7 linked regions of the Homo sapiens genome follow. The protein of the gene in region 6 purifies or fractionates together with the protein of the main gene of each other region. This does not show direct contact. Each region holds a gene or a part of one and is shown on either strand. Other genes may lie near its edges. The genes, in order: BCAR1, ACOT1, STAT3, DBNL, RAP2B, CNP and SIRT3.

Evidence for each region.
Region 1: the proteins of CNP (region 6) and BCAR1 purify together in Homo sapiens (co-immunoprecipitation; one large-scale study listed by IntAct). This does not show direct contact.
Region 2: the proteins of CNP (region 6) and ACOT1 purify together in Homo sapiens (affinity purification with mass spectrometry; one large-scale study listed by BioGRID and IntAct). This does not show direct contact.
Region 3: the proteins of CNP (region 6) and STAT3 purify together in Homo sapiens (co-immunoprecipitation; one large-scale study listed by IntAct). This does not show direct contact.
Region 4: the proteins of CNP (region 6) and DBNL purify together in Homo sapiens (affinity purification with mass spectrometry; one large-scale study listed by BioGRID and IntAct). This does not show direct contact.
Region 5: the proteins of CNP (region 6) and RAP2B fractionate together in Homo sapiens (co-fractionation; one large-scale study listed by BioGRID). This does not show direct contact.
Region 7: the proteins of CNP (region 6) and SIRT3 purify together in Homo sapiens (affinity purification with mass spectrometry; 3 studies listed by BioGRID and IntAct, with this or other methods). This does not show direct contact.

Annotation. Positions count from the first base shown.
Region 1 is NC_000016.10:75,241,625-75,245,124, reverse strand, and holds part of BCAR1 (breast cancer anti-estrogen resistance protein 1), read left to right. Parts: intron 1-2,034; coding exon 2,035-2,655; intron 2,656-3,500. UniProt on the Homo sapiens protein: Docking protein which plays a central coordinating role for tyrosine kinase-based signaling related to cell adhesion. Implicated in induction of cell migration and cell branching. Involved in the BCAR3-mediated inhibition of TGFB signaling.
Region 2 is NC_000014.9:73,540,143-73,544,296, reverse strand, and holds the end of ACOT1 (acyl-coenzyme A thioesterase 1), read right to left. Parts: intron 3,011-4,154; exon of another isoform or gene 2,996-3,010; coding exon of another isoform or gene 2,890-2,995; intron 2,805-2,889; coding exon 2,602-2,804; intron 1,248-2,601; coding exon 642-1,247; 3' UTR 501-641; downstream 1-500. UniProt on the Homo sapiens protein: Catalyzes the hydrolysis of acyl-CoAs into free fatty acids and coenzyme A (CoASH), regulating their respective intracellular levels. More active towards saturated and unsaturated long chain fatty acyl-CoAs (C12-C20).
Region 3 is NC_000017.11:42,312,824-42,315,442, reverse strand, and holds the end of STAT3 (signal transducer and activator of transcription 3), read left to right. Parts: 3' UTR 1-2,119; downstream 2,120-2,619. UniProt on the Homo sapiens protein: Signal transducer and transcription activator that mediates cellular responses to interleukins, KITLG/SCF, LEP and other growth factors. Once activated, recruits coactivators, such as NCOA1 or MED1, to the promoter region of the target gene.
Region 4 is NC_000007.14:44,065,202-44,068,701, forward strand, and holds part of DBNL (drebrin-like protein), read left to right. Parts: coding exon of another isoform or gene 1-328; 3' UTR 329-3,500. Other genes in the region: PGAM2 (phosphoglycerate mutase 2), read right to left, coding at 1-328. UniProt on the Homo sapiens protein: Adapter protein that binds F-actin and DNM1, and thereby plays a role in receptor-mediated endocytosis.
Region 5 is NC_000003.12:153,168,187-153,171,127, forward strand, and holds the end of RAP2B (ras-related protein Rap-2b), read left to right. Parts: 3' UTR 1-2,441; downstream 2,442-2,941. UniProt on the Homo sapiens protein: Small GTP-binding protein which cycles between a GDP-bound inactive and a GTP-bound active form. Involved in EGFR and CHRM3 signaling pathways through stimulation of PLCE1.
Region 6 is NC_000017.11:41,973,295-41,976,794, forward strand, and holds part of CNP (2',3'-cyclic-nucleotide 3'-phosphodiesterase), read left to right. Parts: intron 1-180; coding exon 181-630; 3' UTR 631-3,438; coding exon of another isoform or gene 3,439-3,476; 3' UTR 3,477-3,500. Other genes in the region: DNAJC7 (dnaJ homolog subfamily C member 7), read right to left, coding at 3,439-3,476. UniProt on the Homo sapiens protein: Catalyzes the formation of 2'-nucleotide products from 2',3'-cyclic substrates. May participate in RNA metabolism in the myelinating cell, CNP is the third most abundant protein in central nervous system myelin.
Region 7 is NC_000011.10:226,343-229,842, forward strand, and holds part of SIRT3 (NAD-dependent protein deacetylase sirtuin-3, mitochondrial), read right to left. Parts: intron 1-3,500.

The sequences.
Region 1 (3,500 bases), on a different chromosome or scaffold from region 6:
GCAGGACAGCCCCCGCCCTCCCGCTCCTCTGTGGGGCTCTGGCCCCTAGACCTGCCGCACTGCCTGTCCCGTCCTGCCTCAGAGCCTGGGACATAGTCCACCGTTTTCTTTTTTTTTCTTTTTGTGTAGTTTTTCAGCCCCAAAGCAAGAAACACTCATTCCTGAAAAACAGGAAGAGAAACTATCTCCATTGTCTCAGACATCTCTGGTGTCTTCCTGACCCTCTCTTGTCTTTACGTTTCACAGGACATTTTCTTGAGATGTGCTTTTCACTTGAGTGCCTTTTTCATTTTGTTGTAATCATGGTGTGGACAGTGTTGCAGCCATCCAGGGCCTCTGCCCTTGTGCTCACCTTGGCTCCAATATGACTCCACCTGGGCCTGCCCTCTCCTAGCTGCCCCCTGGCCCCTCCCTTGGGCCTTGCTCCTCCTGGCTCTCCACACTCCAGCCTCTGGCCCTTTTAGGGACTGGAGGCTCCTAGCTGCTCTGGAGAAATGGGCTCCCTGCTGATGATGTCCACCCAGGGCAAGTGAACCATGGGGTCTGAATGTCTGATCCTGGGACCTGGGGCAACTACTGCCTACCCAGGCCGCTGCCTGGTATGCCATCGCCCTCTGATGCCGGCCAGGGAGATGGCGCTCAGAGGGGCACTGTCCAGCCCCTGCTCATATAGGGGAGGAGGGTGGGCCCTAGGGACTTGAAAGAGGCCTCACCCCCACTCCTCTGCCCCAAGGCACAGGCTCCTGCTTCCTGTTTCTGCCCAAGGGGGCGTGGCCCTTTCTTCCTTGTTTCACTCCTTGCAGATGGAGTCCAGAAAGTGGGACTTGGGCCCAAGTGGGGATGGTCACACAGCTACTGGCTGGCCAGAACCCAGGTCCCATTTCCGAGTCAGAGTCTCGACCAGGCTGCACATCTAAGACGCCAGGAGACTCTGAGGAGGGACCTTGCAGGGCAGCCCAGAGCTGAGGCCAGGCTGGTGGGGTGGCTGGAGCCCAGTGCCGGTCACTGTCCAGCCAGCCTGGCACTGTTCTCACACCCGGCTTCCCTGTGTGTGAAGTCTGGGGCCCCTGTGGAACCCATGCAGCCCTCTGCTGCCCTAGGAGGGGCCGCAGCCCTGGCCTTGTCTCACCCCGTGCCTCCCTCACACCTGCCTTTTGCTGCAACCGCCCACACCCTCCAGCCAGGGATCCTCTGTCTCTCTGGGCCCATCCTGCGCCTGGCACCTCGATGGGGCAGCAGCGGCAGGGGCGAGGATGCATGAGTGTGTGGTGGGAAACTGCGAGGCCTCCCTGCCTGGGCTCTAGTGTCCCAGCGAGGCTCCGCCCCTGCCCTCGCCACGGCACTCATGCCTCTGATCCCACAGCCTCCTCCAAGTCCCTCTCGGACTGCTTGGCTCCTGGGCCACATGGAGCACGTACCCGGCTCTGCAAGGGTTTGCTGAGGGCGACGGGGCCAGGACAGGGAGGGTGTGCCTCCTGTTTCTTTCCCAGCCTTGGGGAAGGTGTTTGAAGTTTCTAAATTAATTACTGACTTTTTGGATTTGGGGTAGATAGACTTTGTTAAGGAAGCTCTGTCTTATTGTTGTTCATTTTTTTATCCTAAGAAGCTGTTCTTTTTGTCAGATTATTTTCGTGCACCTCGAGAGAGAACCATTTGCTATTTGTTTTAACTTGGCAGCTTTGTCGTGATTACTGCCGCTCTCCTTGTGTTGGTCCAGGTAGCAGAGTGGCCTTGGGTGGGGCTTTTAGGGATATCTTGAGGGTCATCCCTGGAGTTTTGGTGGTGACAGTGGTCAAGAGGATTTTGAGGTGCTATACAGGTGCAGTTGAAAGAAAGGCCAGGATCAGCTGGGCCTTTCTGCTGGGGAACAGGTGGGGACAGTGGAGGCAAAGGCACAATGATCTCGCCAAACTCCACTGAGTTCTTTTCCTAGTATCAAAGCTGGGCACCTCCCCAGAGCAGGGCAGGAGCTGGGGAGCCCCTGACGCCCCATGCACATCCTTCTGTTCTCACACCTGTGTCCTCTCTCCCCAGAACGTGCTGGCCAAAGCGCTCTATGACAATGTGGCCGAGTCCCCGGATGAGCTCTCCTTCCGCAAGGGTGACATCATGACGGTGCTGGAGCAGGACACGCAGGGCCTGGACGGCTGGTGGCTCTGCTCGCTGCATGGGCGCCAGGGCATCGTGCCTGGGAACCGCCTCAAGATCTTGGTGGGCATGTATGATAAGAAGCCAGCAGGGCCTGGCCCCGGCCCTCCCGCCACCCCGGCCCAGCCTCAGCCTGGCCTCCATGCCCCAGCGCCTCCGGCCTCCCAGTACACGCCCATGCTCCCCAACACCTACCAGCCCCAGCCAGACAGCGTCTACCTGGTGCCCACTCCCAGCAAGGCTCAGCAAGGCCTCTACCAAGTCCCGGGTCCCAGCCCTCAGTTCCAGTCTCCCCCAGCCAAGCAGACATCCACCTTCTCGAAGCAGACACCCCATCACCCGTTTCCCAGCCCGGCCACAGACCTGTACCAGGTGCCCCCAGGGCCTGGAGGCCCTGCCCAGGATATTTACCAGGTGCCACCTTCTGCCGGGATGGGGCATGACATCTACCAGGTCCCCCCGTCCATGGACACACGCAGCTGGGAGGGCACGAAGCCCCCGGCAAAGGTAAGGCTGTCCTGGCACAGTTGTGCAGCCACACAGGTATAGCCCAGGCCCTGGTTTGTGGGCACAGAAGGGTCCAGCCACCCTCAATCACCGGCATTCCAGGAGTGGCTGTGTGTTTGGTCTGGGGTCAAAGTGGGAAGTGAGTGTTTGGGGGGTGTTCATTTGTCCGGGGAAGATGGATGTGAATGGACCCAGAGGGGAGATGCTCCGCTGGCCTCAGCCAAGCCGACCCGAGTGGTGGTGTCACCAACCACAGGGAGCAGCCTGTTGAGGCGTTCCAGTGGGCAGGCGGGGCTTGGCACATGGGGTCGGCAGTTGCTGGGCCCCCGCAAGGGAGAGGCCAGCCACTTCATGCTCAGGCTCCCCTGTGCCATCTGGGTTTACGTGTCAGCCTCTAGATGGGGTTCCGGCACATCTTCTGGCCGCCCCTGCCTCCACAGGCCAACCCCTCTCCACTTATGGAACATGCTAGGGGCCAGCGGGTGCGTATGGTGATCTGGATGTGACTCCTGGGAGGACGCTGCCCCTGAGATTGCTAGAGGAGGACTGCCCTGAGAGCCTCCTGGGCTCTTGCTGATGGGATGCTGGGCCTGGGGACAAGACCTCTGGCCTCCAGACCCTGAGCCCGCTTCCCAAGTCCACAGGGCCCCTGCCTCCCAAGCTCACCTGCCTGTAGGAAGGAGTCAGCACTAGACACTCAGCCCAGGGCTGAGGTGGAGACCTCATTGGTGCCAGCTGGGCAGCGAGTCAGCTGGGAGTTACCCCCACCCCCGCCCATGGGTGGCCTGGTACCCAGGAGGCATGGCCGGAGGTCGTTGGCGGGTGGGGGACTCCATGGACATGGG
Region 2 (4,154 bases), on a different chromosome or scaffold from region 6:
TTTGAGGCATAGTCTTGCTGTGTTACCCAGGCTGGAGGGCAGTAGTGCAATCTCAGCTCATTGCAACCTCTGCCTCCCGGGTTCAAGCAATTCTCCTGCGTCAGCCTCCTGAGTAGCTGGGACTACAGGCATGCGCCACCACGCCCGGCTAATTTTTTGTATTTTTAGTAGAGATGGGGTTTCACCATGTTGGCCAGGCTGGTCTCAAACTCCTGACCTCAAGTAATCCGCGCACCTTGGCCTCCCAAAGTGCTAGGATTACAGGTGTGAGCCACCACGCCTGGCTCACTTATACTCATTCAGCAAATAATTATTGAACTCCATTTACGTACCAGACACTGTTAATTGATGTTACTCACTTTTCCTTTCAGAACTAAAGCCTTATCAGTTGTGTGTTGAGATAGGAAGAGGAGACTTTTTCCACTTCTTGTGTTTCCTACAGTTACTCCCTTCCCAAACTGATAAAGTATACAGTTTATAAAAATCTTAAAAACTCATTCTTACTGGTAAATTCATTTTAATAATGAGGGGAAGAAACTTTAAGAAGTTATGAGAAAGAATGAATACACATACACACACTAAATGTGGCAGATGTTTCCAGGAGAGATTAGCAACAGAGAGGCCACATGATCAAATAAAATTTACACTTTTGATGGGATTGTCCCCTCGTGGCCACCCAAGTGTTTGTGGAAGAAAGTCTGGAGTTGTTTCCAAGCATCCACCTGAGCCATGGCATGAGCCCTGGGCTCCCCTCCCCAGATAATAGGACTGCCCACCAAGGCATGCAGGGAAGCCCGACACAGGGGGAAGTAAGGAGGCTCAATATAGTGCCCTGTCTCTGGGTAACAGATGATCTGGGGCTTTCTCCTCCCATGGGCCTGCAAGCGTTTACAGGCCTCATTAGCATAGAACTCACTCTTCCAGTTGTGGTCATCCTGACCTACCAGGAACAGGAAGGTGCTCTCTGCCCTTTCCACAGGAATGAAGCTCTTCTGGTCAGGTCCTTCCAAAGGGCTGTTCAGGACATCCACAATGTCTGCATAGCCATCTTTGGTCACCTTGATGCGATTTCTGTTGACGCCCACAGGGGGCAGGGTCTCGCCCTTGTAGCGTAAGGTTCCCCCAACATTGGCCACAGAGCCGTTGATGACGACAGCAGCCGTGATGCCCTTCAGGAAAGAGGCCATGGAAAGGCAGAGCTCACCCCCTTTGGAAATTCCAAGCAGCCCAACTCCTGGACCTTTTACCTGAGAAAGGGACAAAGGAAAAAGAAGAAGAATGGCTCCACAAACAGTGGAATATGGTGAGTTGTGCCCACCCTGGAAGTTAGTTGAACCTGAGTCTGAATCTGGGTTCTACCATTTACCCAGATTTGCAGCTTTGGGAATTTACCTCCCCTCTATCTCTTCCTTTCCACAATTTGTCCATCACCACTCTTGGTGATAACCATGTGGAAGATCTATCAATTACTCTGGTTTCTCAGTTCCTTAATCTCATTATCTCCCATGATCTTTTTCTGTCTCCCACCTGAGCCACCCATTCCCACTGTCATAACTAAACTGAGTCGTCATCAACAAGTACGTCATCTCATGGCCGGGCGTGGTGGCTGACGCCTGTAATCCCAACAGTTTGGGAGGCTGAGGCGGGTGGATCATTTGAGGTCAGGAGTTCGAGACCAGCCTGGCCAATATGGTGAAACCCTGTCTCTACTAAAAATACAAAAATTAGCCAGGCAGAAGTGGCATGCGCCTGTAGTCCCAGCTACTCAGGAGGCCGAGGCAGGAGAATCGCTTGAACCTGGGAGGTGGAGGTTGCAGTAAGCCGAGATCATGCCACTGCACTCCAGCCTCGTTGACACGGCAAGACTCCGTCTTAAAAAAAAAAAAAAAAAAAGAAAGAAAAAACATACTGGAATTTAAAATTGCATAATACCAACTACAAATATCTTTACTAGCAGGAAATATAGTAATATAGAATTGAATAGAAACTGTCTATAAGAGGCCAGGTGTGGTGGCTCATGCCTGTAATTCCAGCACTCTGGGAGGCCGAGGTGGGCAGATCACTTGAGGTCAGGAGTTTGAGACCAGCCTGGCCAACATGGCGAAACCCCATCTCTACTAAAAAAAAAAAATACAAAAATTAGGCTAGGCATAGTGGCTCATGCCTGTAATCCAGCACCTGGGGAGGCCAAGGCAGGTGGATCATTTGAGGTCAGGAATTCAAGACCAGCCTGACAAATATTGTGAAACCCCGTCTCTACTGAAAATACAAAAATTATCCAGGCATGTTGGCAGGTGCCTGTAATCCCAGCTACTTGGGAGGCTGGGGCACAAGAATCACTTGAACTTGGGAGGTGGAGGTTGCAGTGAGCCAAGATCGCACCACTGGACTCCAGCCTGGCAACAGAGTGAGACTCCATCTCAAAAAAAGAAAGAAGAAGAAGAAGAAAGAAAGAAACTGTCTATAAGAAGTGACTAAAAAAGGTAGTGTGTGTTGGGGTAGGGAATGGCTGTCATGAATGAGCTAACTTCTGTGAAAACCCAGACCATTTAAGAAGAGACCTGATACATCATAGCCCATAAATCTGAGAGAAGAACTCACCTCAGGATGACTGAGCAAGTAGTTCACAGCTTCTTCAAAGTACTCCAGATGGAGCGTCTCCATGGTCTTGGGGAGGTCTTCATAGTTATAGTAAGCCAGAGCCATCACAGCAAAACCCTTCCCAGCCAGCAGACTAGCCCGATACTCCAGCAGGCCACCTCCAGTTCCGAACATGTCCACAATGCCAGGAAAGGGCCCAGGTTCTTGGGAAGAAACAAAACAAAATGCAAAACTAAGCTATTCCTGAAACAGTTGGATGGTTTCTTACCAAGTTAAACATATACTTACCACACATGTGACCCAGCAATCCCACTCCTAGGTATCTACCCACGAGAAATGAAAACCTGTGTTCGTCCAGAAACTTCTGGCAAGTGTTTATAGTGACTTTATTCATTGTAGCCAAAGACTGGAAACAACCCAAATGTCCTTTAACTGGTGAATGAATCCATTTAATGGTGCACCACCAAGAAACAAAAAGAAAGACTGCTACATAGAAGAGCACAAATTCCTCTCCAGTGCACTCAACAGAATGCACTTATTCAATGGAGACAGACTCAAAAGGCTACTCATTCTGAATGACTCCACTTACTGAATATTTTTATCATTTACATTAAAGGTTTTGTGTTTCACACAAAATTAAAGAATAATAATGCAGGCTGGGTCTGGTGGCTCACGCCTGTAATCCCAGCACTTTGGGAGGCTGAGACGGGTGGATCACCTGAGGTCAGGAGTTCGAGACCAGCCTGGCCAACATGGTGAAACCCCATCTGTACTAAAAATACAAAAATTAGCTGGGTGTGGTGGCGGCCACCTGTAATCCCAGCTACTCGGGAGGCTGAGGGAGGAGAATCGCTTGAACCCGGGAGTTGGAGGTTGCAGTGAGCCAAGATTGTGCCACTACTCCAGCCTGGGCGAAAGAGCGAGACACTGTCTCAAAAAAAAAAAAAAAAAAAGAATGCAAACACCTTACAGGCAACACTTTTAAGACATAGTTCAGTGCTGATACCCGCAAACCATCAACGTCCCACAGACCCCTGTGCCCTTTCCTCTCTTTCCAGTATCCTGGACTTTCTGTGTATCACTCTTGGTTTTCTTCATAGTATTACCACTTAGATTATGTACCTTAAACAATATTTTATTTTGCCTATTTTTTGAACTGTATCTAAATGGAATGATACTGAATGTGTTCTCCTAGTGTTTGACTGTTTCACTCAACAGTGGTTTGGAGATTCATCCATGTTGATTCTTTTTTATTTTTTTCTTTTCTTTTGTATATCTTGATAGATGTTGATTCTTCTAGCTGTAGTTCAATCACTTTGACTGCTGGAAATATACCTCAATTTATTAATCTGTTCTATTGTTGATGGACATTTGGACTGTTTCCAGTTGACTTTGCTCTTTTTTTAAATTAATCCAGACTGCTCATCTGCAATGGCTTTCCTCTTATAAGGAATATGCCTCCTGGTGCACATGTACAAGTAGAATAACATATTTAACTTTGTAAGTTAAGACAAATTGTTGCCCAGAGCAGATGAATATGTTGACTCCTTCTA
Region 3 (2,619 bases), 340 kb from region 6:
TGTTCCCCTGCCCTCCTTTCTCAGCAGCTTTTTGTTATTGTTGTTGTTGTTCTTAGACAAGTGCCTCCTGGTGCCTGCGGCATCCTTCTGCCTGTTTCTGTAAGCAAATGCCACAGGCCACCTATAGCTACATACTCCTGGCATTGCACTTTTTAACCTTGCTGACATCCAAATAGAAGATAGGACTATCTAAGCCCTAGGTTTCTTTTTAAATTAAGAAATAATAACAATTAAAGGGCAAAAAACACTGTATCAGCATAGCCTTTCTGTATTTAAGAAACTTAAGCAGCCGGGCATGGTGGCTCACGCCTGTAATCCCAGCACTTTGGGAGGCCGAGGCGGATCATAAGGTCAGGAGATCAAGACCATCCTGGCTAACACGGTGAAACCCCGTCTCTACTAAAAGTACAAAAAATTAGCTGGGTGTGGTGGTGGGCGCCTGTAGTCCCAGCTACTCGGGAGGCTGAGGCAGGAGAATCGCTTGAACCTGAGAGGCGGAGGTTGCAGTGAGCCAAAATTGCACCACTGCACACTGCACTCCATCCTGGGCGACAGTCTGAGACTCTGTCTCAAAAAAAAAAAAAAAAAAAAGAAACTTCAGTTAACAGCCTCCTTGGTGCTTTAAGCATTCAGCTTCCTTCAGGCTGGTAATTTATATAATCCCTGAAACGGGCTTCAGGTCAAACCCTTAAGACATCTGAAGCTGCAACCTGGCCTTTGGTGTTGAAATAGGAAGGTTTAAGGAGAATCTAAGCATTTTAGACTTTTTTTTATAAATAGACTTATTTTCCTTTGTAATGTATTGGCCTTTTAGTGAGTAAGGCTGGGCAGAGGGTGCTTACAACCTTGACTCCCTTTCTCCCTGGACTTGATCTGCTGTTTCAGAGGCTAGGTTGTTTCTGTGGGTGCCTTATCAGGGCTGGGATACTTCTGATTCTGGCTTCCTTCCTGCCCCACCCTCCCGACCCCAGTCCCCCTGATCCTGCTAGAGGCATGTCTCCTTGCGTGTCTAAAGGTCCCTCATCCTGTTTGTTTTAGGAATCCTGGTCTCAGGACCTCATGGAAGAAGAGGGGGAGAGAGTTACAGGTTGGACATGATGCACACTATGGGGCCCCAGCGACGTGTCTGGTTGAGCTCAGGGAATATGGTTCTTAGCCAGTTTCTTGGTGATATCCAGTGGCACTTGTAATGGCGTCTTCATTCAGTTCATGCAGGGCAAAGGCTTACTGATAAACTTGAGTCTGCCCTCGTATGAGGGTGTATACCTGGCCTCCCTCTGAGGCTGGTGACTCCTCCCTGCTGGGGCCCCACAGGTGAGGCAGAACAGCTAGAGGGCCTCCCCGCCTGCCCGCCTTGGCTGGCTAGCTCGCCTCTCCTGTGCGTATGGGAACACCTAGCACGTGCTGGATGGGCTGCCTCTGACTCAGAGGCATGGCCGGATTTGGCAACTCAAAACCACCTTGCCTCAGCTGATCAGAGTTTCTGTGGAATTCTGTTTGTTAAATCAAATTAGCTGGTCTCTGAATTAAGGGGGAGACGACCTTCTCTAAGATGAACAGGGTTCGCCCCAGTCCTCCTGCCTGGAGACAGTTGATGTGTCATGCAGAGCTCTTACTTCTCCAGCAACACTCTTCAGTACATAATAAGCTTAACTGATAAACAGAATATTTAGAAAGGTGAGACTTGGGCTTACCATTGGGTTTAAATCATAGGGACCTAGGGCGAGGGTTCAGGGCTTCTCTGGAGCAGATATTGTCAAGTTCATGGCCTTAGGTAGCATGTATCTGGTCTTAACTCTGATTGTAGCAAAAGTTCTGAGAGGAGCTGAGCCCTGTTGTGGCCCATTAAAGAACAGGGTCCTCAGGCCCTGCCCGCTTCCTGTCCACTGCCCCCTCCCCATCCCCAGCCCAGCCGAGGGAATCCCGTGGGTTGCTTACCTACCTATAAGGTGGTTTATAAGCTGCTGTCCTGGCCACTGCATTCAAATTCCAATGTGTACTTCATAGTGTAAAAATTTATATTATTGTGAGGTTTTTTGTCTTTTTTTTTTTTTTTTTTTTTTGGTATATTGCTGTATCTACTTTAACTTCCAGAAATAAACGTTATATAGGAACCGTCTGATAGCATGGCAGCTCTGTTTGGCTGGTGGAGGCTTCCTTTTCCCCTGCATAAGTTCTGAGGGGGCCTCACACACAGGTGGGGCCTGGGATAAGGGCCGGAAAGGGTCTTGAGAGGAGGTGGTTGCCTTAATCCCCCCCGCCAACCCCCTTATGTTAGCCACCAGCCCGGAGGTAAGGGGTGCCTGGAGGAGCAGGAGGTCAATAGTCCAACGGCAGAAAGGTGTCAGAGTGGAGGCCTCCCTCCCCGGCCCCCTCCTACCCCCCAGAGCGGCCTCGTCCTGTCTGGGGTCAGATAAGCCACCTAAGCGGGGTGGGGGGTAGATACTCCCACCGCACCAAGGCCTCCCCTTCCACAGTTGGCTCCTTTATCACTTTCCCTTCAGTTCACCCAGCGGGGACAACACGCAGACACCCGGTGGTGGCTGCAGGGCCCCCGGCAGCCAGCGGTGATAATGCAGGGAAAGGCGCCCCAACCTCAGCTACGCGGGCGCCCACAGG
Region 4 (3,500 bases), on a different chromosome or scaffold from region 6:
CCTCCCCGTGCTTGGCGGCCGTTTCTGCCTTGTTGAGGCCTGTGAGGCCCCCGTAATGCCGCTCATTGAGGCGCCAAGTGCGCACCACAGGCAGCCACATCTGGTCCGTGCCGTCCAGGATGGCCCAGAGGGTGCGGATGGCCCGCTTCAGCACTGACGTGTAGCAGATGTCAAACTCCATCTTGGCATCCTTGATGGCCTTGGCTCCCCGCTTGGCCTCCTCGGTCCCCTTTTCACTCAGCTCTGCATCGAACCAGCCACAGAAACGGTTCTCCTGGTTCCATGTGCTCTCGCCGTGCCGGACCATCACGAGGCGGTGAGTGGCCATGGTGGCAGCAGGGACCACAGAGGACTCTGGACGGGGACGGCTGCTTCCCAACACTCCCAGCTTTATAATAGTGTCTTCCCAGCCCCCACCCACCCCAGCCAACTGCCAATCAGCATTCCAGGCGGTGGCAGGTGACCAGTAGCTGAGCTGCTGGGGGCTGGGGGCCAGGGGAGTGTGCAGGCCAAGAGGCTGTGCTTAAAATAGCCCCACGCATCCACCAGCTCCTGGCCTGGGTTCAGGTGGCATGTCTATAACCAGCTGGCACCCAGAGCCCAGACTGAGTGGGGCTGCTGGTCAGGGATGGGCGTGAAGGGCAGAAGTCTGGGCCAGGGGAGATGGGGATAGCAGGGACAGAGGGGCTCTCCAGGGCAACGCTCAGTGGCCTATCAGCCATTCTCTGCTCAGACAGAGGCACAAACAAAATCCCAACCCCTTTCTCCTGTGATTGGCAGCCAGGCTAGGAGGCGGCCCTCAGCAGGCAGAGGAGGAGAGCCAGAGGAGCTGGTGCAGACCACAGCTTTGTGGAGAGGAGTCTGGCCTTGTGGAAGGTACCAGGCAGCAGCAGCAGAATGGGCAAGGGCTGGGGCTGAGCCGGGTTTCCAGGACAAAGGGGGAAAGGGCCCCTGTCTTTCCTCCGGGGTCCCTTTGTCAAGGTCTCATCCATACATGCCCCATGCTCCCACCCTATCTGCCCTCACCCAAGCCACGCTCACTCTCCTAGCCGAAACCACCTTGAAAAAGAGAAATCCAAGGGGGTTTGGGGGCAGGACTGAGGACTGTCAGAAGTCTTGATTGTTAGGTAAATGCTCAGCTTAGCAGGAACCCACAACGTAGGCTGAAGGGTGGCACGGAGTTGAGTCTAGGACCAAGACTTCTGCATTCAGGTTTGGGGGATGAGAGCCACCAAGGCAGGGAAGAGACTATGAGCAATAAAGTCACAATTGGGGCCCTAATGAAGGGGCCATGGCCAGACCCTTGGGCATGGGCCCCATCCAGGGCCTCCCATTTCCTCCCACCCCAGTGACCACACTGTCACCTGCGACACTTCTGATAACAGGAGCGGGTAGGTGAGAGGCCAGCAGAGGGACCACCACTCTGAGACTTGGATCTGAGTGTGCAAGAAACCCTCGACAGGCCTCCCTCCATCCCTGCTGGCCTACCTGGGGAGGGGCTCCTGGCTTGGGGCCTGTGAAGCTAAGGCTCTGTACCCAAAGGTTGGCAGACAAGTCCCAGTGGGCAAAGTCCTGTCGGCTGCCAGGACCCCCAAGGCTGGCAGGTGGAACCCATCCCTCCTAGCAGTGCCATGCGCAGGTCTCACTGTTCCACACTGATCCTGATTGAAGCCACATCTCCTCATCTGCTTTTGTCCCTTTGACCAAGAGTTGATTCACTAGCCCAACTAAACATGACTGAGGACCAGGCTCTGGCAGTCCCACAGGGGCCAGACATGAAGCCCATATTTCAGTGGAGGAGGGATCGTACCAGCAGCTAAACATGCCTACCGTAGATAGCACCAGATGCTAGGAAGGAAGGACCATAATGTACTGGGAGAGATGGGAAAGGAGAGGCCGGGGACAGCCCTGAGGTGACATGTGAGTGGAAAGAGCGGAGTGCAAAGGCCTCAGCTATGATGAGTCCTACAGGGAGAGCAATTCAGGTAGAGGGGTTGGCAAAGACCCAAGCCCTACAGAAAGCAAACAAGCTGGGGCAGCGACCATCAGGGGCACATGGCAGAGAGGTGGGCTTTGTGTCCCAACACAGTGGGAATCACTGGAGACTTTGAAGCATGGTCATATTTTCAAGTCACTTGCAGCTGTGTAGGAGTGGAAGTAGAAGCTGAGTACCCTGCAGGTCTCGGCAGCTTTGATGAGAACAAGGCCGCTTAGCCAGGGCTGGGTGCAGAAGCAGTGGCAAGGATCCCCCAGACCTGGGAGACCTCACTGCCAACCAAGCAGGAGGTGTCAAAAAGGAAAGGGGAGCCCAAAGAAGGGCTGGACTTCGGGGAAGCAAGCCCCTGCTTCTGACCCTTGGCTCCGGCTTGACTTTCCTTTGATTCATTTGACAAGTAGTTGCTGGCCTCTGCAGTGTGCCAGAGCTTTCTTGGAGGGGTACAGGGGTAGGAAAACCAAAAGCCACCCTCAGGGCCTCCATCCAGGAAGGCATAGCATGGTGGGCGGCGAGGAAGGCTGCTGAGTCAACAAGGTGGTCCCAGGAAGGTGGAGGGAGCATCTTCCCATGTCTCTCCCACTGACAGCCACCAATCCTGGACAGATGCAGGAGCAGCTGTCAGTAGACAGATAAGAAAAGGAGATCAGATTCAAAGTTCCGCAGAGAAGTGGTGAGGTAACAAGTATTGCCTAGCCTGGACACACAGGCGGCTTGAAACCTCAAGTGCACCAACAGAAAGAGCTCCAGGAAGAATCAGAGGAGTGGGATGTGAAGCCCCTCGAAGTCAGTGAGTTGGGGGAATCCCTCCAATTTTTCTTTTCTTCTCTACCCCAGCTCCTGGGCAGTAACATGGAGGTGGCAGTGGTGGCACAGTGACGGTAGTGTGAGCTGGGTACGCACTTGAAACCTGAGAGGGTAACGCTACCCTCTGTCTAGAGGAGCCATGGCCCCAAAAGCATGGGGCAACCACCTTCTGCAGCTCCTTTCTGCCCCCCTGCGCTGGGCCCTGGATGCAGTTTCAGGGAGTATGCAGCAGGGTAGGTAGGGAAAGAGCCCCAGATTTGTGGCTGGAGGTCTTGGTAGGGATGTTGCAGGGAGCTGTTGTGTTTCAGGGAGAGTACAGAGAAGGGAGAGATGAAGTGAGTGATCCGATAAAGTGATATGTGAAGTCATTGGCTTGCTGCCAAGCTGCGCACAGGGCTGACCCTAGATGCACATTGCAGGTCCCAGACTGACCGGTGTAGATACAGGACTAATATGACTAGTAGTGCAAACACTTTAAACAGTCAACATTCTGCTTAGGATTTAAACAAGGTCCAGAGTCTCAACATAATATTTAAAATATCCAGGTTATCCAAAATAACCCAGTGTATGAAAACCAGGAAAATCTTAACATGGGAGAAAAGAAGATGATCAATACATGCCCATCCTGAGATGATTCAACTATTGGAATGATCAGATACAGACTTCAAAGCAGCTATTTATAACCAGCCTTCAGAAAGTA
Region 5 (2,941 bases), on a different chromosome or scaffold from region 6:
ATCTGGGTTTTTAAAGACAATTTGGGGGCCTTCTAAAGAAACAATAGTAGATCTAATTACAAGTAGTGGATTGCTTACTTCAAATTTCTCTTTTACAATTTAGAAAGTTTAGTACCAGTTTATAGACTGAGGGAGTAGTAGCTACTATTTAGATGCTGAGAATAATATTATCATGCTTGGGTGGGGAAGAAAGGCCCTTACTCAAATCTCCATTTTCATTTTTAATGCTTCCTGGACTTCAGTTATTTTCTTGCTTTTGCCTCAAGAATAATAAATATTTTTGGTTAAAATTTTTTTTGTTCAACCCTGTTGTTGTTACTGTTATTTTCATAGCACAGTAGTCTACAGCTCTCTATAGTAGCTTAATAGCTATTTGCTGAATGAATGGAACATGGAGTGTTACATCTGAAACTATTCTATTAGAAGGTGAAAAGTGTTGATTGAAGAATGGTAGGATTTTATCTTCCCTACCCATGATAGATTTATTAAGATTGTCTTTGGAGCTATGTCTTCCATTCCAACTATACAGAAATAAACTTTTTTAAAGTTTAGTTTGCCCATCTGATAAAGGAACATTCCTGTATGCTATTCTAAGGTTCATTTTCAACAAAAGTTACAGACATTTATGGTTGATAGTTTGAGATCTATGACAGTTTTAGGGAGCTCCATATTCAAAAGGCTATTGCTGGTGATAGTACAATGAAACACTGACTTCAGTATATTTTTATCTTGGCTTTCATTTTACGGTTATTTCTACTACTGTTAATATGGACTAATACTTGATTTTGTGAACCTGTTTTAATTTTAGGGTTATATTTATGTTGGAATAATATATTTTAAAAGTGTCCTATACTATGAATTTATTTGCCATATATAAGACAATCAGAATTATCTGGTAGTTTATTCTAATCCTGGTTAATAATCATTAGGACTAAACTATTTACATTAAAGAAGGAAAAAACAATGAGATGATAATTTTTTTTTTCTTTGAGACGGAGTCTTGCTCTGTCGGCCAGGCTGGAGTGCAATGGCGCGATCTCGGCTCACTGCAACTTCCGCTTCCTGGGTTCAAGCAATTCTCCTGCCTCAGCCTTTCCAGTAGCTGGGACTACGGGCGCCCTCCACCACTCCCGGCTAATTTTTGTATTTTTCATAGAGACAGCATTTCACCATACTGGCCAGGCTGGTCGTGAACTCCTGACCTTGTGATCTGCCCACCTTGGCTTCCCAAAGTGCTGGGATTACAGGTGTGAGCCACCGCACCCAGCCTTTTTTTTGAAATGGAGTCTGGCTCTGTCGCCCAGGCTGGAGTGCAATGGCGCGATCTCGGCTCACTGCAACCTCTGCCTCCCAGGTTCAAGCGATTAGCCTGCCTCATCCTCCTGAGTAGCTGGGATTACAGGCGTGCACCACCACGCCCGCCTAATTTTTGTATTTTTAGTAGAGATGGGGTTTCACTACGTTGGTCAGGATGGTCTTGAACTTCTGACCTTGTGCTCCACCCACCTCAGCCTCCCAAGAGTTGGGATTACAGGCGTGAGCCACTGCACCCGGCTGAGATGATAATTTTATTTAAAAAAAAAATTGTAGAGATAGGGTCTTGCCGTGTTGCCCAGGCTGGTCTCAAATTCCTGGGCTCAGGAGATCTTCCCTCCTCAGCCCCTCAAAGTGCTGGGATTACAGGCCTGAGCCACTGCATCCAGCCAGGAGTGACAATTTCTAAAGCCTTAATTAGTGAAATGGTTTGTTTTGAGAAGCAGAAATGACTAAGTGGTATAGACATGCAGGAAAAGCAAAATGGGCCTTATGGCTATTGAAATTATGAGTGTTGATCTGTTCTATAAATTGGAGGAGACAGCTATTTGCATTCTTTCTTATCCAGTTGACTAAACTTACTCATTTTAAAATGAATTATCTTGCAAAATTATGTGAGGTTAAGTTTGTCAGAGGATTGAAAACGTGGTTGGTTTATTTGTGGTAATTGTGAAAAATTGCAAAGGTAGCAAAATTTTTTAAAAAATGGAAAAGAGAAAGATTATTGATGCCTTGTGAATACAGGTGTCCCCAAAAGGCCTGAGACCAACCTTAATTATCAAGAATATGGTTGCAGTGGAAATTGGTAAACAGCTGAAATTGATTCATTGATTATTCAACACTTATTGAGCACATACTACTATTATTAATAGCTGTACTGCGAGCGCTAATACTTAAAAGAGGAAGTCAGGTGAAGGCGCAACAGCTTTATGCTCTTTTTCACTATAATCTGTGAAATAGTGTATATTAAACAATAATAGTATATGGAAAAGCACATCTACATGTGTCATCAGTTATAATACTGTGGGGCTGTTTGGCAGACAATAGAGTAGATAAATTTATTGAACATTGGGCCTTTGAAAGGTATGTGGAAATTGTAAATAAAAATGGATTCCATGAATTTCAAATAATAATTGTTCTGTTGTATGTGAAACTGTGTAATAAGATTGTCATTTTATTTACTTTTCTGCATCATTTTCAACTTCCTTTTTGAGATTAGCTAAAATTGAACACTTACAAGAGGAAATGATTTTACTTTTATATTTTCATGTCCAAGGGAAGAGGAAAACATGAAGAAAACAGATTTATAAAATTTACTCACAAGGCTGGGCACGGTGGCTCACACCTGTAATCCCAGTAGTTTGAGAGGCCGAGGCAGGTGGATCACGAAGTCAGGAGTTCAAGACCAGCCTGGCCAAGAAGGTGAAACCCCGTCTCTACTAAAAATACAAAAATTAGCCGGGTGCGGTGGGAGATACCTGTAATCCCAGCTACTCAGGAGGCTGAGGCAGAATTGCTTGAACCTGGGTGGCAGAGATTACAGTGAGCCAAGATCGCACCACTGCACTCCAGCCTGGGTGATAGAATGAGACTCCATCTCAAAAAAAAAGTAAAATAAAATTAAATT
Region 6 (3,500 bases):
CCTATGGAAGGTGCGTGCCGCAGTTGTTAGTGGATGCTGGGCCTATACCGACCCCTGCTCAGCTGTGCTCACTTCTGTTAGACTTCCCCTTCTCTCCTCCAGGAGGGACCCTCCCTGGGTCAGCTGTTCCTCAAGAGCCTGCCATCTCTAGCTTGGGCCCCTCTTTCTCACTCTCCCCAGGTGTTAAAGAAATCTTACTCCAAGGCCTTCACGCTGACCATCTCTGCCCTCTTTGTGACACCCAAGACGACTGGGGCCCGGGTGGAGTTAAGCGAGCAGCAACTGCAGTTGTGGCCGAGTGATGTGGACAAGCTGTCACCCACTGACAACCTGCCGCGGGGGAGCCGCGCCCACATCACCCTCGGCTGTGCAGCTGACGTAGAGGCCGTGCAGACGGGCCTTGACCTCTTAGAGATTCTGCGGCAGGAGAAGGGGGGCAGCCGAGGCGAGGAGGTGGGCGAGCTAAGCCGGGGCAAGCTCTATTCCTTGGGCAATGGGCGCTGGATGCTGACCCTGGCCAAGAACATGGAGGTCAGGGCCATCTTCACGGGGTACTACGGGAAAGGCAAACCTGTGCCCACGCAAGGTAGCCGGAAGGGGGGCGCCTTGCAGTCCTGCACCATCATATGAGTGTTCTCACCACCACTTATGCCCCTAGAAGGGAAGGGGAGAGGGAAACGTGCCCTCTGTTTGATCCTTGTTTTGTGACATTTTTTTTTTTTTTTTTTTTACTCAAAGTTAACCTACCTGTAACTTTTTAAAAACTTGTAAAATAACTGACCCTCCCTTCCTGTCCGCCCTCTTCCCCTCTAATGCTCACGCTCCCAACACAAGGTGGGCAGGGAGGCACCATTCAGGAACCTGGACCAAAGCTGACGAGGCTGGGCCAAGCCAGGGATGGGGCCACAGCCAGAACCCCGAGCCCTACTTCCAGGTTCTGGTTAGCTCAGCCCCAGCCCAGCCCAGCTGCTCTGCCCAGAGCTGGGTGAGTGGGGAGACACCTCAGAGCCCCGCAAAACCCACTGACCGGAGGCAAAAGGCAGTGGGGCTGGGGGTAGTTTTCCATGGTCACAGAGAACTAGTGGTGGCTCTGAGAAGGGGAGGACCTCTGGGCTTTGATTCCATCTCCTTGTCTTTTTTCTTTGTTTTTAGAGACAGGGTCCTGCTATTTCCCAAGCTGGAGTGCAGTGGTGCGATCATGGCTCACTGCAGCCTCGAACTCCTGGGCTCAAGCAATCCTCCTGAGTGATCCCATTTCTTAATCAGTGTAGCCCCAAGAAGGCTGGGGCTATTTACCAGGGTAGAAAAAGGAGCTTACCTCCCACCTTTGGTCCTAAGTCCCTGCCCCCTCCCCTTCACACCATAACTAGGTAACAGTTTGATAACTAGGGAAGAAAGCAGAACAGTTAAGCAGCCGCCACATCCCCGCTGGCTGGGGGCCTCACTCCAGGAAGGGGCTGGACTGGCTGTCCTTTCCAGTGGCCTGGCTCCGCTGTGTGGATGGGGAGATCGGGGCCAGAGGCAGAACCCTGGTGAGGAAGCTCCAGTCCTGCTCTCTACCCAGCCCATCTTGCCTCCATGGTGCCTCTGGAGGCCTCTGGGCCTCCTCTAACAGGGGCTGGTGGGCACCAAGAGCCAATGGAGTAGACCCCTGGCTGGTAAGGGCCAAGTCCCACCGGTTGCTTCTGGGAAGGGGTTTCTAACACTAGTCTGTGTGCTGTGGTTCCTGGGGTGCCCTCCACTGCCCTCTGTTCAGTAACAGGGCCTTGCTAATCGGGTTGTCACTCAACAAAAGTGCTTTGGATTTAAGTTACTATCCTGGCTTTGCCCAACCTCAGCAACCTGTAAGACTGATAATGAAATAAATCATGTTAATCCTAGCTGTGTGCAGTCTCTCTTACCCTTCTGTGCCCAGCTCAGTCTTCCCTAGGGCTGGGTGTATTAGGACTGGCTTTGTCCCACAGCTTGGGGCCATCGGTCCTGTCTCCCCTCTGCTGGCCGGGCACAGCTGTGGTGAGGTTGGGCAGCTGAACAGTGTTGGCTTTCATGAGGAGGCAGAAAGCAGAGGCTGGCCTCAGACTCATACAGAAGGTGGGGGTTGGCTGGGTACGAGGGATGTGGAGCACAAAAGCCTCTCATCCCCCATTAACCAGGGCACCAAGCCCACAGGTGTCCCCAGCCCACTGGATCAGAAAGAGTTCAGTAAGACCGGAAGCTCCTGGTATGGGTTTCTCCCAGTTCTCTAGGGAAGGCCACCTGCAGGTCACTGAAACTTCAAGCACCAGGGAAGATCTAACATTTGAGTCCCTTCCAGGCCATCAGAGGCCTAGTCAGCCACATGGGAAACTTCCAAGACCTGACTCAGGCATCATTCCACCATGGCTAAGGCACCAGCCGGGGAAGACTTGAAAGAAAGGGGCAGGAGCTCAGATGAAGAGAAATCCTAAGTTACCTTTCTAGGTCAAGGCCTGTCCCTGGCCATCTCTGAACTTCAGCTAGAGCTTCAAGTCTGTGCCTGGAGCTCCTGGGAAGGCTACTCACCTTGAACACCACGCTTGACAGGACAGCATGGTGCATGCCGCTGCATCCGTGAGCAGTGTGTCTCCTGCATGCAGAAAGGGAGCAGAGAAGGCCAGGGGCTTTTGCTAAAAATAGTGGCCAGACCAGAGCTCTGGAGCCACCTGTCCCACCTCAAATGGGTCTGGGGGTCAGGAGGCAGGGTTTTATCTCTGTCTACCATCTCCCTCGAACCCACACTGCAACAGGAACTGTGAGAGTCTTTGTAAGTAAACTGCCCTGTCTAGGTCAGTACCCACCTGAGCTTTGGACGCACACAGCTTTTAGTACCCACCTGAGCTTTGGACACACACAGCTTCTAGTGATTTCTGGGGCCCCACCGTAAAGTGAGCATGCTTTCTGAACTCGCTTCTCTGTGACTGATGTTAGGCTGGGCCCAGAGGCACAGCCGGGGCCTGCCTAGCACTCACATGCTGGACAGGTCTGGGAGAGGCAGAGTGCCCCACCTGCCACTAGGCTGGGTGCCCACAGCCCGCATGCAGCAGCTTGCTGCACCCCAAGTCCAGGTCGGGCTCAGCTCTGGCTCACAGACTGGAGACAATGCAGATGCCAGAGCAAAGGGCCAGGAAGGGTCAAAACATTTTATTCTCTTTTTTTTTTCTTTTTTAATAAAGTTAAACAGTAAAACAAAAATTCACAAGCTGCCTCCCTGTCCACCCCCGCCTCCCTCCCCTGCCCTCGGTCTTCGGCATTGGTTCCCTTTGCTCCACCCCACTCACAGAGACACAGGGCATCCAACTGAGAAAACGAAACTGCTCTAAGCACACGGAGACGTGATGAAGGGAGGAGGTGAACTGTTTCCACATTCAAGATTAAACTGAGTGAATCTGCATTTTCTGGGTTCTGGGTGGTTGCCCTTCATTAGCCAAATTGAAAAAAGAAATTCCCTGGACCAGATGCTGAAAGAGAAAAGAGGGGTTGGT
Region 7 (3,500 bases), on a different chromosome or scaffold from region 6:
TTCTCTGGGGTTCCCTTGACCAAGGGGAGGGCTCCATTCAGTTGGTTGCAGGGCTTAGAATTTTATTTTATATTTTATTTTTTTGAGATGGCATCTCGCTCTGTCACCCAGGCTGGAGTGCAGTGGCATGATCTCGGTTCACTACAACTTCTGCCTCCTGGGTTCCAGCAATTCTCCTGCCTCAGCCTCCCGAGTAGCTGGGATTACAGATGGGTGCCACCACAAATGGCTCATCTTTGTATTTTTAGTAGAGACGGGGTTTCACCATGTTGGCCAGGCTGGTCTCAAACTCCTAACTCAGGTGATCCACCCGCCTCAGCTTCCCAAAGTACTGGGATTACAGGCAGGAGCCACCGCGCCCAGCCTAGAATTTTATTTTATTTTTCTTAAGGAAGGCCTACAATTATTATTATTATTTTTTTTTTTTTGAGATGGAGTTTCGCTCTTGTTTCCCAGGCTGGAGTGCAATGGCCTAATCTCAGCTCACCGCAACCTCCGCCTCCCTGGTTCAAGCAATTCGCCTGCCTCAGCCTCCCGAGTATCTGAGATTATAGGCATGCACCATCACGCCCGGCTAATTTTGTATTTTTAGTAGATATGGGGTTTCTCCATGTTGGTCAGGCTGGTCTCAAACTCCTGACCTCAGGCGATCCACCCACCCGGCCTCCCAAAGTACTGGGATTACGGGCGTGAGCCACCATGACCAACTGGCCTACAAATTTTAAGCAGAAGAAATAAAAGAAAATTCATATGGAAAACCACAGTGGAGAAACCGCAAAACTCCAAAGACAAAAGTCTTAAAAAACAGGCAGAGAGGCCAGACACGGTGGCTCATGCCTGTCATCCCAGCACTTTGGGAGGCCGAGGCGGGTGGATCATGAGGTCAGGAGTTCGACACCAGCCTCACCAACATAGTGAAACCCCATCTCTACTAAAAATACAAAAATTAGCTGGGCATGGTGGCGCATGCCTGCAATCCCAGCTACTCAGGAGGATGAGGCAAGAGAATCGCTTGAACCTGAGAGGGGGAGGTTGCAATGAGCTGAGATCATACCACTGCACTCCAGCCTGGGCAACAGAGCAAGACTCTATCTCAAAAAAACAAAAAATCCAAACAACAACAACAAAAATAAAACAGGCAGAGAACAGATAGCAACAGTTTCAGAAATTTATATGAAAAGCCAAAAGATTCAGACCAGCCAACACAGTACTGAAGGAGAAGAACAAAGGTGGGGAATTAACATCAACCTGTTGCCCAAATTATCTATTTTATTCTCTTATTTATTTATTTATTTTGTTTTGAGATGGAGTCTCACTCTGTCACCCAGGCTGGAGTGCAGTGGTGCGATCTCAGCTCACAGCAACCTCCCCTCCCAGGTTCAAGCAATTCTTCTGCCTCAGCCTCCTGAGTAGCTGGGATTACAGGTGCACCACCACACCTGGCTAATTTTTGTATTTTTAGTAGAGATGGGATTTCACCATTTTGGCAGGCTGCTCTCAAGCTTCCCACCTCAGGTGACCCGCCTGTCTAGGCCTCCCAAAGTGCTGGAATTACAGGCGTGAGCCACTGTGCCCAGTCCCAAATAATCTCTTTTAAATGCAAATCCCTTCACATCATTTTCCTGCCTAAAAATCCTCCAATGCCTCCCATGATCGTCAGGATACAGTTCAAACCCTAACAGAGCAAGCAGGCCTCCCACACTCCAGGTCTCTGCTGCCAGAAACAGACTCTTACATCCAGACGGCCTCATCTCAAAGGTGCTTCCCAGCCTACTCTGTTCCTACAGCTGAGTCAGTGTAGTGTCCAGTACATATTTATAGTAAAATTCGTATGGCACCCAGTTGTAACTGTTGGATGACTCCACCTTATTTTAATTTCTATTCACATCCACAGAACCCAGCAAAGGGCCTGGCACTGAGGAGACTAAACTATTTGTTGAATAAATTGGTCATTCAATGAATGAGTTGACCAAAACAATAATACGTATATATCAAGTTTCTACTATGTGCTGGACTCACACTTCCTAATTTCAAAACTTACTACAAAGCTACAGTAACCAAAACATTATAGTGCAGGCACAAGGATATACAGATAACAATGGAATAGAATTGAGACTCTAGAAATAACCCATACACCTATGGCCAACTGATTTTCAACAACAATGCCAAGACCACAGTTTTTTTAAACAAATGGTGCTGGAACAATTACATATCCACATAAAAGAAAATGAAGCTGGATCCCTACCTTACAGCGCACACAAAAATTAACTCAAAATGGATCAAAGAACTAAATGTAAAAGCTTTAAACTATAAAACTCTTATAAGAAAACAGGAGTAAAACAATACCATTTCTCAGATATGATTCCAAAAGAGTGAGAAAATAAATAGACAAACTAGATTTCATCAAAATCAAAACTTCTATGCATCAAAAGACATCAACAAAGTAAAAAAGACAACCTACAGAATGACAGAAAATATTTGCAAATCATGTCTCTGATAAGGATCTAGCTTCCAGAATATATAAAGGACTCTCTTAACAATAAAAAAGACAACACAATTAAACAATGCGCAAAGGACTTCAATCTCCAAAGATATACAAATGGCCAAAAAGCACATGGAAAGATGTTTGATATCATGAATCATTAGGAAAATGCCAATCAGTGCTACAGTGGGTTACCACCTCCCACCCACTGGGATAGCTGTAATTAAAAAATGGAAAGTAAGTGTTGGGATGTGGAAAAGATGAAACCCTTGCCCACTGTTGGTGGAATGTAAAATGGTCCAGCTTCTGCAGATAACAGTATATTCGTTCCTCAAAAAGTTAAAACGGGCCGGGCGCAGTGGCTCTCGCCTGTAATCCCACACTTTGGGAGAAAGAGGCAGGCGGATCACGAGGTCAAGAGATCGAGACATCCTGGCCAACATGGTGAAACTACTCTACTAAATACAAAAATTAGCCGGGCGTGGTGGTGTGTGCCTGTAGTCCCAGCTACTCAGGAAGCTGAGGCAGGAGAATCGCTTGAACCCAGGAGGCGGATGGTACAGTGAGCCGAGATTGCGCCACTGCACTCCAGCCTGGTGATAAGAGCTAGACTCCGTCTCAAAACAAACAAACAAAAAAGTTAAACATGGGCAGGGCATGGTGGCTCACGCCTGTAATCTTAGCACTTTGGGAGGCCGAGGCGGGTGAACCACCTGAGGTCAGGAATGCAAGAGCAGCCTGGCCAACATGGTGAAACCCCATCTCTACTAGAAATACAAAAAACATTAGCTGGGCATGGTGGCAGGCACCTGTAATCCCAGCTTCTCAGGAGGCTGAGGCAGGAGAATCGCTTGAACCCGGGAGGCAGAGGTTGTATTGAGCCGAAATCGCGCCATTGCACTCCAGCCTGGGTGACAGTGTAAGACTGTGTCTCAAAAAATAAATAAATAAATATAGCTAAACGTGGAGTTACCCAGCAATACTTGTAGGTATCATACTCAAAAGAATAAAAAACAAG